2 separate regions of the Homo sapiens genome follow, and region 2 is linked to region 1. The links come from fine-mapping of genetic effects on plasma protein levels. Region 1 holds a variant in brackets. A gene starts in the other region. All regions are shown on their forward strands.

What was found. PIP is the posterior inclusion probability: the model's chance that the variant is causal. Protein levels are from antibody-based Olink assays in UK Biobank. Linkage for the fine-mapping came from a reference panel and not from the study's own genotypes, which makes the PIPs less certain.
Region 2: it holds the start of SPINK2, and the variant in region 1 is fine-mapped to the plasma level of the SPINK2 protein (UK Biobank, PIP 0.99).

The regions. Positions count from the first base shown.
Region 1 is chr6:407,811-413,188 of GRCh38, forward strand. It overlaps IRF4 (interferon regulatory factor 4), which reads left to right. Exons shown (of 9, transcript NM_002460.4): 9 at 1-3,633. Among named protein-coding and RNA genes, the nearest start is that of IRF4, 19 kb to the left of the region's middle. RefSeq lists enhancers at 2,318-2,407, 2,828-2,977, 3,878-4,027, 4,398-4,577, 4,758-4,817 and 2 more. The variant GTCT/G (reference allele first, on the strand shown) is at 2,016.
Region 2 is chr4:56,820,785-56,826,157 of GRCh38, forward strand. It overlaps SPINK2 (serine peptidase inhibitor Kazal type 2), which reads right to left and starts at 917. Exons shown (of 4, transcript NM_001271718.2): 1 at 674-917. The coding sequence starts at 878. RefSeq lists a silencer at 759-1,018.

The DNA.
Region 1 (5,378 bases):
GTGATTTTCATTGTAAATATTTGACTTTAGTGAAAGCGTCCAATTGACTGCCCTCTTACTGTTTTGAGGAATTCAGAAGTGGAGATTTCAGTTCAGCGGTTGAGGAGAATTGCGGCGAGACAAGCATGGAAAATCAGTGACATCTGATTGGCAGATGAGCTTATTTCAAAAGGAAGGGTGGCTTTGCATTTCTTGTGTTCTGTAGACTGCCATCATTGATGATCACTGTGAAAATTGACCAAGTGATGTGTTTACATTTACTGAAATGCGCTCTTTAATTTGTTGTAGATTAGGTCTTGCTGGAAGACAGAGAAAACTTGCCTTTCAGTATTGACACTGACTAGAGTGATGACTGCTTGTAGGTATGTCTGTGCCATTTCTCAGGGAAGTAAGATGTAAATTGAAGAAGCCTCACACGTAAAAGAAATGTATTAATGTATGTAGGAGCTGCAGTTCTTGTGGAAGACACTTGCTGAGTGAAGGAAATGAATCTTTGACTGAAGCCGTGCCTGTAGCCTTGGGGAGGCCCATCCCCCACCTGCCAGCGGTTTCCTGGTGTGGGTCCCTCTGCCCCGCCCTCCTTCCCATTGGCTTTCTCTCCTTGGCCTTTCCTGGAAGCCAGTTAGTAAACTTCCTATTTTCTTGAGTCAAAAAACATGAGCGCTACTCTTGGATGGGACATTTTTGTCTGTCCTACAATCTAGTAATGTCTAAGTAATGGTTAAGTTTTCTTGTTTCTGCATCTTTTTGACCCTCATTCTTTAGAGATGCTAAAATTCTTCGCATAAAGAAGAAGAAATTAAGGAACATAAATCTTAATACTTGAACTGTTGCCCTTCTGTCCAAGTACTTAACTATCTGTTCCCTTCCTCTGTGCCACGCTCCTCTGTTTGTTTGGCTGTCCAGCGATCAGCCATGGCGACACTAAAGGAGGAGGAGCCGGGGACTCCCAGGCTGGAGAGCACTGCCAGGACCCACCACTGGAAGCAGGATGGAGCTGACTACGGAACTGCACACTCAGTGGGCTGTTTCTGCTTATTTCATCTGTTCTATGCTTCCTCGTGCCAATTATAGTTTGACAGGGCCTTAAAATTACTTGGCTTTTTCCAAATGCTTCTATTTATAGAATCCCAAAGACCTCCACTTGCTTAAGTATACCTATCACTTACATTTTTGTGGTTTTGAGAAAGTACAGCAGTAGACTGGGGCGTCACCTCCAGGCCGTTTCTCATACTACAGGATATTTACTATTACTCCCAGGATCAGCAGAAGATTGCGTAGCTCTCAAATGTGTGTTCCTGCTTTTCTAATGGATATTTTAAATTCATTCAACAAGCACCTAGTAAGTGCCTGCTGTATCCCTACATTACACAGTTCAGCCTTTATCAAGCTTAGTGAGCAGTGAGCACTGAAACATTATTTTTTAATGTTTAAAAAGTTTCTAATATTAAAGTCAGAATATTAATACAATTAATATTAATATTAACTACAGAAAAGACAAACAGTAGAGAACAGCAAAAAAATAAAAAGGATCTCCTTTTTTCCCAGCCCAAATTCTCCTCTCTAAAAGTGTCCACAAGAAGGGGTGTTTATTCTTCCAACACATTTCACTTTTCTGTAAATATACATAAACTTAAAAAGAAAACCTCATGGAGTCATCTTGCACACACTTTCATGCAGTGCTCTTTGTAGCTAACAGTGAAGATTTACCTCGTTCTGCTCAGAGGCCTTGCTGTGGAGCTCCACTGCCATGTACCCAGTAGGGTTTGACATTTCATTAGCCATGCAACATGGATATGTATTGGGCAGCAGACTGTGTTTCGTGAACTGCAGTGATGTATACATCTTATAGATGCAAAGTATTTTGGGGTATATTATCCTAAGGGAAGATAAAGATGATATTAAGAACTGCTGTTTCACGGGGCCCTTACCTGTGACCCTCTTTGCTGAAGAATATTTAACCCCACACAGCACTTCAAAGAAGCTGTCTTGGAAGTCTGTCTCAGGAGCACCCT[GTCT/G]TCTTAATTCTCCAAGCGGATGCTCCATTTCAATTGCTTTGTGACTTCTTCTTCTTTGTTTTTTTAAATATTATGCTGCTTTAACAGTGGAGCTGAATTTTCTGGAAAATGCTTCTTGGCTGGGGCCACTACCTCCTTTCCTATCTTTACATCTATGTGTATGTTGACTTTTTAAAATTCTGAGTGATCCAGGGTATGACCTAGGGAATGAACTAGCTATGAAATACTCAGGGTTAGGAATCCTAGCACTTGTCTCAGGACTCTGAAAAGGAACGGCTTCCTCATTCCTTGTCTTGATAAAGTGGAATTGGCAAACTAGAATTTAGTTTGTACTCAGTGGACAGTGCTGTTGAAGATTTGAGGACTTGTTAAAGAGCACTGGGTCATATGGAAAAAATGTATGTGTCTCCCAGGTGCATTTCTTGGTTTATGTCTTGTTCTTGAGATTTTGTATATTTAGGAAAACCTCAAGCAGTAATTAATATCTCCTGGAACACTATAGAGAACCAAGTGACCGACTCATTTACAACTGAAACCTAGGAAGCCCCTGAGTCCTGAGCGAAAACAGGAGAGTTAGTCGCCCTACAGAAAACCCAGCTAGACTATTGGGTATGAACTAAAAAGAGACTGTGCCATGGTGAGAAAAATGTAAAATCCTACAGTGAAATGAGCAGCCCTTACAGTATTGTTACCACCAAGGGCAGGTAGGTATTAGTGTTTGAAAAAGCTGGTCTTTGAGCGAGGGCATAAATACAGCTAGCCCCAGGGGTGGAACAACTCTGGGAGTCTTGGGTACTCGCACCTCTTGGCTTTGTTGATGCTCCGCCAGGAAGGCCACTTGTGTGTGCGTGTCAGTTACTTTTTTAGTAACAATTCAGATCCAGTGTAAACTTCCGTTCATTGCTCTCCAGTCACATGCCCCCACTTCCCCACAGGTGAAAGTTTTTCTGAAAGTGTTGGGATTGGTTAAGGTCTTTATTTGTATTACGTATCTCCCCAAGTCCTCTGTGGCCAGCTGCATCTGTCTGAATGGTGCGTGAAGGCTCTCAGACCTTACACACCATTTTGTAAGTTATGTTTTACATGCCCCGTTTTTGAGACTGATCTCGATGCAGGTGGATCTCCTTGAGATCCTGATAGCCTGTTACAGGAATGAAGTAAAGGTCAGTTTTTTTTTGTATTGATTTTCACAGCTTTGAGGAACATGCATAAGAAATGTAGCTGAAGTAGAGGGGACGTGAGAGAAGGGCCAGGCCGGCAGGCCAACCCTCCTCCAATGGAAATTCCCGTGTTGCTTCAAACTGAGACAGATGGGACTTAACAGGCAATGGGGTCCACTTCCCCCTCTTCAGCATCCCCCGTACCCCACTTTCTGCTGAAAGAACTGCCAGCAGGTAGGACCCCAGAGGCCCCCAAATGAAAGCTTGAATTTCCCCTACTGGCTCTGCGTTTTGCTGAGATCTGTAGGAAAGGATGCTTCACAAACTGAGGTAGATAATGCTATGCTGTCGTTGGTATACATCATGAATTTTTATGTAAATTGCTCTGCAAAGCAAATTGATATGTTTGATAAATTTATGTTTTTAGGTAAATAAAAACTTTTAAAAATTTGTTATGGAATGTGTGTGTGTGTTATTAAACATGCATCCTGATAGCTTTTAAAGCACTTTCTCCTGCGGTTACGTTCCTTCAGAGAGGCTGCTGTACGTGTCTCTGAAATCAGATCTCCAAGTGTTCACCTTGTTAAAGAGACAAACGCTGGCCAAGTGCCGGGCTGCTCCTCCCACACAGAGGAGTGTCTGTGAAGAGTAATCATCCTGCTCTCCCGTTAGCATCTGCCTCCTCTTCCTTTATCTGTACTTTAAAAGGTTTAGGGCTTTCAAGGAAGTTGTTTTTAATGTTTTCTTTTGTTTATATTCGAAGCTCCTCTGATTTTGGTCATTGCTAAAAAGAAGGGATATAGGTTAACTAACACTCCAAATGTGAAAATCAAATGGAAAACTGGATAAAGAGAACAGGATTTAGATGGAACCCCTGGGGATCCGTACGTCTGCTGTTGACCTCAGCTCCAAACTCTTCCTCTCTCTGAGCAGCCAGGCAAGGGAGTCTCCTTTCTCAGCTTCATCGCTTCTACTGATTACATGGCTCAGCTCCTATGCACCTACTAACTTCCAGTCCAGCAGAAAAACTCAAAGAACCAGGCTGCAGCTGCTGGTGCTAAAATCCTTGCAGCTGAAGGTTACATAGAGCTGTCAGAAAAGTTTGTAGTTTGGATCTAGAACCCCCCCTAGAATAGTAGATTAGCATAATTTTGATTTTGCTAAATGGTAAAATTTCTTTTCTAAACCCTCACAAGTTCAGTTGAGAAACTTTCCTGAAAACAAAGATCAATAAATCTTAGCATAGTGATAAGACAAAGGAGACAGCAGCTCCAGTGTTTTAAAAGGGGACAAAAATGAGAGAAGGTAGTAAAATCTGTTCCCAGATTCCACTGCTGCCTTCGCTGTTCCCAGGAAGGAAGGATTTATGTCCTGATCTCAGGAGACAGGCTTCAGCAGAGTGCTTCCCTGTGAGTTCTGTGTTCCTAACTTAACAATTCTCAATATTTTGGGGAGAAATATTTTGGTTTCCTTCAGTCCCCCCTTGAAGCTTTACTTTCAGAAAGTTTCACATGTTAAAAGCTAAGTTGGTAGTTTTGGAGAGATTTGGGTTAGAAGTTTTAAGATAAGAGATTTGGCAAAGGAGGAGGAGAACATAGTTTGGAACAAGCAGAAAGGAACCAATTTGGGTACATTGTTCCATCTCTTATTGTATCAGTCTTTCAGTCCTGAAAATAGGTCAGTTCCGTTAAATCATTGCATCCCATTTCAGAGGTGGTGTAAGTGGGCTTCCATAAGAGTTACGTCTTCCATATGGTGTAGGCACACAGGTACTTTATCAGAGACATTTGTATGGAAATAAAAAGAAAACAAAGGTCTATGTTTCAAGCAGTCTATAAGCTAGTTTCTGGAGAGCAACCAGCTGAGATTTCTAGATTTGGGTTCAAATAATTTTAAGTTGGAGTGGACAGGCAGTGGCAATCTGACAGATTTTTCTGGATTATAGTTTGCATCAGACGTTCCAGTGAAGTTTTTGTCCATAAATAAATTGTGATGACTTCTCCAAAGTTTATATCAAGTTGTTCAGCTTTCATTTGCAGGGCTTCAGGAAAGGCACGGTTTTAATTCCTAGTGATTTCAAGTCAGAAAGGTGGGAGAAAGTTGGGAATGTTAGTCTGAAGAGCCATAGCAGATATTAGAGGAAACTAAAACTTCAGGATTCAGTCCAGATAATTTTTAAAAACTCTAAAACAATGGACAG
Region 2 (5,373 bases), not on the chromosome of region 1:
TAAAATCCAGTTTGGGATTTATCCAGGCCACATCTTCTATTTTCCCCTCTAATGCCTACCTTCTTTAAACTGTCCCCATCCCACTTCCCCCAGAAAGGATATTCAGTTTTTTATGGCACCTCTCCCCAAAAGCACATAGAAATAACATTTGGTTCTGTTCCCATTAGGGTTGGTTGAGAAAGGACTTTGAAGCTATGGAATAAAAGTCGCGCTAGCGCACTGCAGCTTCAATTCCTGGTCTCAAGCGAGCCTCCCGCCTCAACCTCCGGAGTAACTGGGACTACCGGCCCAAGCCACTACACCTGGCCAAGGAAGTAACCCTTAATTAATAGTTCATGATGTTATTTTCCTTTACAACTCGGGGTAACAAATACAAAATTTAATATAAGATGTGAGCATTTTAACTCCATTTTAAGAGAGGTGTCCAGTGTGGTTGGACTAAAGCCCCTTTCTCGTAAGCATCCACAATTCCTCATTCCTGCACATCTCCTCCCTTGGGACCATACATAAAAACTCAACTCCTCATCTTGGGCACCTGAAAATCTACTTTAACAGAGAAAGCGCTCTAGATGGCAGGTGTCCTTAGAGCTGGGAGCGAAGCCCAAGCAAGAACTAAAGAGGGTGGCTGACTCCACAAAGCCACCCCCACAACCCCCAGTTCGCGTTCCTCCACCTGGCAGGTCCTCTGGGGAACCGCCAGTAACGGGCGCGCGGGTACCGTCGCCGAGGCCGCCCGGAGCAGGGCAGGGTCCGCCGCCGGTCTGACTCCCAAACCCGCTTTTCTCCGGAGGTCCCCGCTCGCCAGGACCGCTCCGAGCGCTACCTGCGAAGGTAACTGCCAGGAGCAGCAGCGCCAAGCGCAGCACCGACAGCGCCATCCTCCTCCCGCGCCGGCTGTCTTGCCCCTGCGGTCTGTTACCTGCGCCACTCGCAGGGAGCGCTCGTGCGACGGGGCGCGGGGAGGGCGGGGGAAGGGGCGGGGCGAGAATGGGAGGAAAAGCAGCGGTAGGTGGCGAGGGAAGAGGGGCGGCGGGAAGAGGAGCGGCGGGAAGAGGAGCCGTGAAGGGTCGGGGGAGAACCGGAAAGGGCTGGGAAGGAGAAAGGTAGAAGGACGGGGGAGGGGGCCATGGGGAAGGAGGGGCGAGGGAGATAGAGGAAGGGGCAGTTGTTCCCCAACACCTTCCCCTCCCCCCAAGGAGACGAAGGGGAAGACCTCTCCCTCCGACATACAAGAACCTGTGACAGTCCTAGGGGGACCCTTGTGGAGCTCTTGGGAGCTCTGTCAATCAACACCTATTTCTTAAGCATGTACTAAGTCCCAGATAGTGTTTCGTTGCTGAAGACACAGCCCTGACCTCGACAAAGGAGGTCCTTGCTCTCAGGAAGCGTTCTGCCTTTCCCTCTTTTAATATATTTTTTAACTATTTGAGTTGACACATAATGATTGTACATATTTATGGGGGTACATAGTGATATTTGGATACATACAATGTGTAGTGATCAAAATAGGATAATTAGCATATTCATCACCTCAAACATTTATCATTACTTTGTGTTGAGAACATTCAAAATCCTCTCATCTAGCTACTTGAAAATACATAATAAATTATTATTATTATTTAAATTTCAGACAGGGTCTCGCTCTTTTACCCAGGCTGGAGTGCAGTGGCACGATCTCAGCTCACTGCAACCTCCACCTCCCAGGTTCCAGTGATCCTCCCACCTCAGCCTCCCTCCCAAGTAGCTGGGACCACAGATATATGCCACCATGCCAAGCTAATTTTTGCATTTTTTGTAGAGAGGGGTTCTCACCATGTTGCCCAGGCTACTCTCAAACTCCTGGGCTCAAGCAATCCGCCCACCTTGGCCTCCCAAAGTGCTGGGATTACAGGCTTGAGCCACCGTGCTCGACCTTTATAATATATTATTGTTAATTGTCGGCACCCTACAATGCTATGAAACACTAGCACTTATCCTTTCTACCTAGCTGTAATTTTGTATACTTTAACCAACCTCTCCCTATCCCCCTATCCTTCCCAGCCTCTAGTAACTACTGTTCTACTCATTACTTCTGTGAGAAATAATTTTTGCCAAAGAGGCTGAGCAAGTTAGTGCATTAAGGCCAGGCGTGGTGGCTCACGCCTCTAATCCCAGCACTTTGGGAGGCTGAGCCTGGTGGATCACTTGAGCTCAAGAGTTTGAGAGGAGCCTGGGCAACAGGGCAAAACCCCGTCTCTAAAAAAAGTACAAAAATTAGCCAGGTGTGGCCATTGAGCTGAGATTGAGCTACTGCGCTCCAGCCTCAGTGGCAAAATGAGACCATGTCAAAAAAATTTGGCCAGGCACGGTGGTTCATGCCCGTAATCCCAGCACTTTGCGAGGCTGAGGCAAGTAGATCACTTGAGGCCAGGAGTTTGAGACCAGCCTGGCCAACATGGCAAGACCCCATCTCTACTAAAAATACAAAAATTAGCTGTGCATGGTGGTGCGCACCTGTAGTCCCAGCTACCTGGGAGGCTGAGGCATGAGAATTGCTTAAACCCAAGAGGCAGAGGTTGCAGTGAGCCGAGATGGTGCCACTGCACTCCAGCCTGGGCGACAGAGTAAGACTCTGTCAAAAAAAAAAAAAAGTGCATTAGCAGATCCACTTTTTTTTTTTTCTGCTTCTTATGCCTGTGTGTCAAATGATTCTGTGACATGTTGCCTTATCAGTAAGGGTCCAGTCTGGAAAACACAAGGTTTACTAGGTATTTCACCAGAGATAATTTAGTATAAGGAATTGGCTAATCCAGTAGGGATAACTGAAAAAAGCAGAAAGGGAAAACGAGGTAACACAGAGATAAAGCCTTTAGGAAGTAGGCATCATGCCTCGATCTAGGGGAACAAACGGATTAGGTTGGGATTCTCAGAACTAGAAATTTGGAGGAGAGGTCCTGGAAAGCTGGGACTCAGACCCATGGGAAGGGGGTGTTGCTTGGATATGCAGGTGGCTCTAAGAGTGTGTGGAAAAGCTGAAGACTGGAGCCAGGTGCAGTGGCTCACACCTGTAATCCCAGCACTTTGGGAGGTTGAGGTGGGTGGGTCACTTGAGGTCGGGAGTTCGAGACCAGCCTGGCCAACATGGTGAAACCTTGTCTCTACTAAAAAATATAAAACTTAGCTGGACATGGTGCCATACTCCTGTAATCCCAGGTTCATGAGAATCTCTTGAACCTAGGAGGTGGAGGTTGTGGTGAGCGAAGCACACCACTGCACTCCAGCCTGGGCAACAGAGTGAAACTCTGTCTCAAAAAAAAAAAAAAAAATGCTGGAGACTGGAGCCAGCTGATTCTATCAGAGTGATGAAGAGTCATTGCTGTGGCACTGCTGAAAGAAACAGCCAGCAGGCAGGAGCCAGTCCCTTCTCCCTCCTCCTGCCTTCCGGTGTCCCCCTGACAGACCCTATGGGCATAACCTTCTGGAAGCCAGCTGAAAAAGCAGAAATGAGGTCTGCTGAGACCTGGCACCACATAGCAGAGTGTAGAAGGGGGTTGTAGAGCTGATGGAGAATCATCTTATGACTGGCATGTTCCCATGCCCACCCTTGACCTTAGCAACCTCAAAGGCTGGAACAAGAAGACACTGTGCAGTTTTTAACTCCACTTGGCACCACACATGGCTGAGTTCTGGCTGGAATCCTGTCTGAGGCCAAGGGGTAAATTTGAAATGAGTGTTAGTACTTCTCTAAGTCACATCACATTCAGTTCTTTGAATAACAGTCATGAAATGGTCATGGGTCATTTTGCTGAAGATTCTTATCAAGGATTGATAAAATATAATTTATATATAAAGCTTTTCTCAACTGTGCTGGATGTCTGTTACCAAATGACATGTGCACTTGCTTACAAACACCTTTGATGCTCTGGGAACACAAATCTGACCCAGACTCAGGGGCAATGCTCAGAGGTGTGTGAGTAGGAATTTCAGCTTCAAAAGAAAAGCCATTTACCCCTCAAGATAGATTTTTTATAAATTTATGTGTGTGGATACAGCTGCCTTTAGGTTATTTTGTTTCAAAGAGTTGACACTGACTGGCAGGGTGGCTCATGCCTGTAATCCCAGCACTTTGGGAGGCAGAGGCGGGCAGATTGTTTGAGCCCAGGAGTTGGAGACCAACCTGGGCAACATGACAAAACCCTGTCTCTAAAAAAATACAAAAATTAGCCTGGTGTGGTGGCGCGCACCTGTAGTCCCAGCTACTTAGGAGGCTGAGGTGGGAGGATCACCTGAGCCTGGGAGGTGGAGGCTGCAGTGAGCCATGATCACACCACTGCATTTCAGCCTGGGTGACAGAGCGAGACTCCGTCTCAAAAAAAAAAAAAAAATGTTGATAATTATACCTTAGAAATATTTTCTATCATGGTGCTTTTCACATGTTGTCTCAGCATTTGTGAGCCAAGAACAAGGGTCAAAAAACATTTTCTGTAAAGGGCCAGATAGTAAATACCATTGACTTCTTGTCACAACTAAACTCTGCCATTGCAGTGCAAAAGGAGACATAGACTATAACTCAATGAATGGGCATAACTGTATTCTTTTTTTTTTTTTTTTTGAGAGAAGATCTTGCTGTGTCACCCAGGCTGGAGTACAGTGGCGCAATCTCAGCTCACTGCAGCCTCAACCTCCTGGGCTCAAGCGATCCTCCCACCTCAGCCCCACAAGTAGCTAGGAATACAAGCATCCGCCACCACACCCAGCTAATATTCTTGTATTTTTTGTAGAGGTAGGTGATATGGTTTGGCTGTGTCCCCACTTAAATCTCAACTTGAATTCTATCTCCCGGATTTCCCAAGTGTTGCGGGAGGGACCCAGGGGGATAATTGAATCATGGGGGCCAGTCTTTCCCATGCCATTCTCATGATAGTGAATAAGTCCAGGAGATCTGATGGGTTTATCAGGAGTTTCCATTTTTGCTTCCTCCTCATTTTTTCTCTTGCTCCTGCCATGTAAGAAGGGCCTTTCACCTCCCACCATGATTGTGAGGCCTCCCCAGCCATGTGGAACTGTAAGTCCAATTAAACCCTTTTTTCTTCCCAGTCTCATGTATGTCTTTATCAGCAGCATGAAAATGGACTAATACAGTAAATTGGTACCAGGAGAGTGGGGCGTTGCTGAAAAGATACCAAAAATGTGGAAGTGAATTTGGAACTGGGTAACAGGCAGAAGTTGGAACAGTTTGGAGGGCTCAGAAGAAGACAGGAAAATGTGGGAAAGTTTGGAACTTCCTAGAGACTTGCTGAATGGCTTTGCCCAAAATGCTGATAGTGATAAGGAGAATAAGGTCCAGGCTGAGGTGGTCTAAGATGGAGATGAGGAACTTGTTGGGAACTAGAG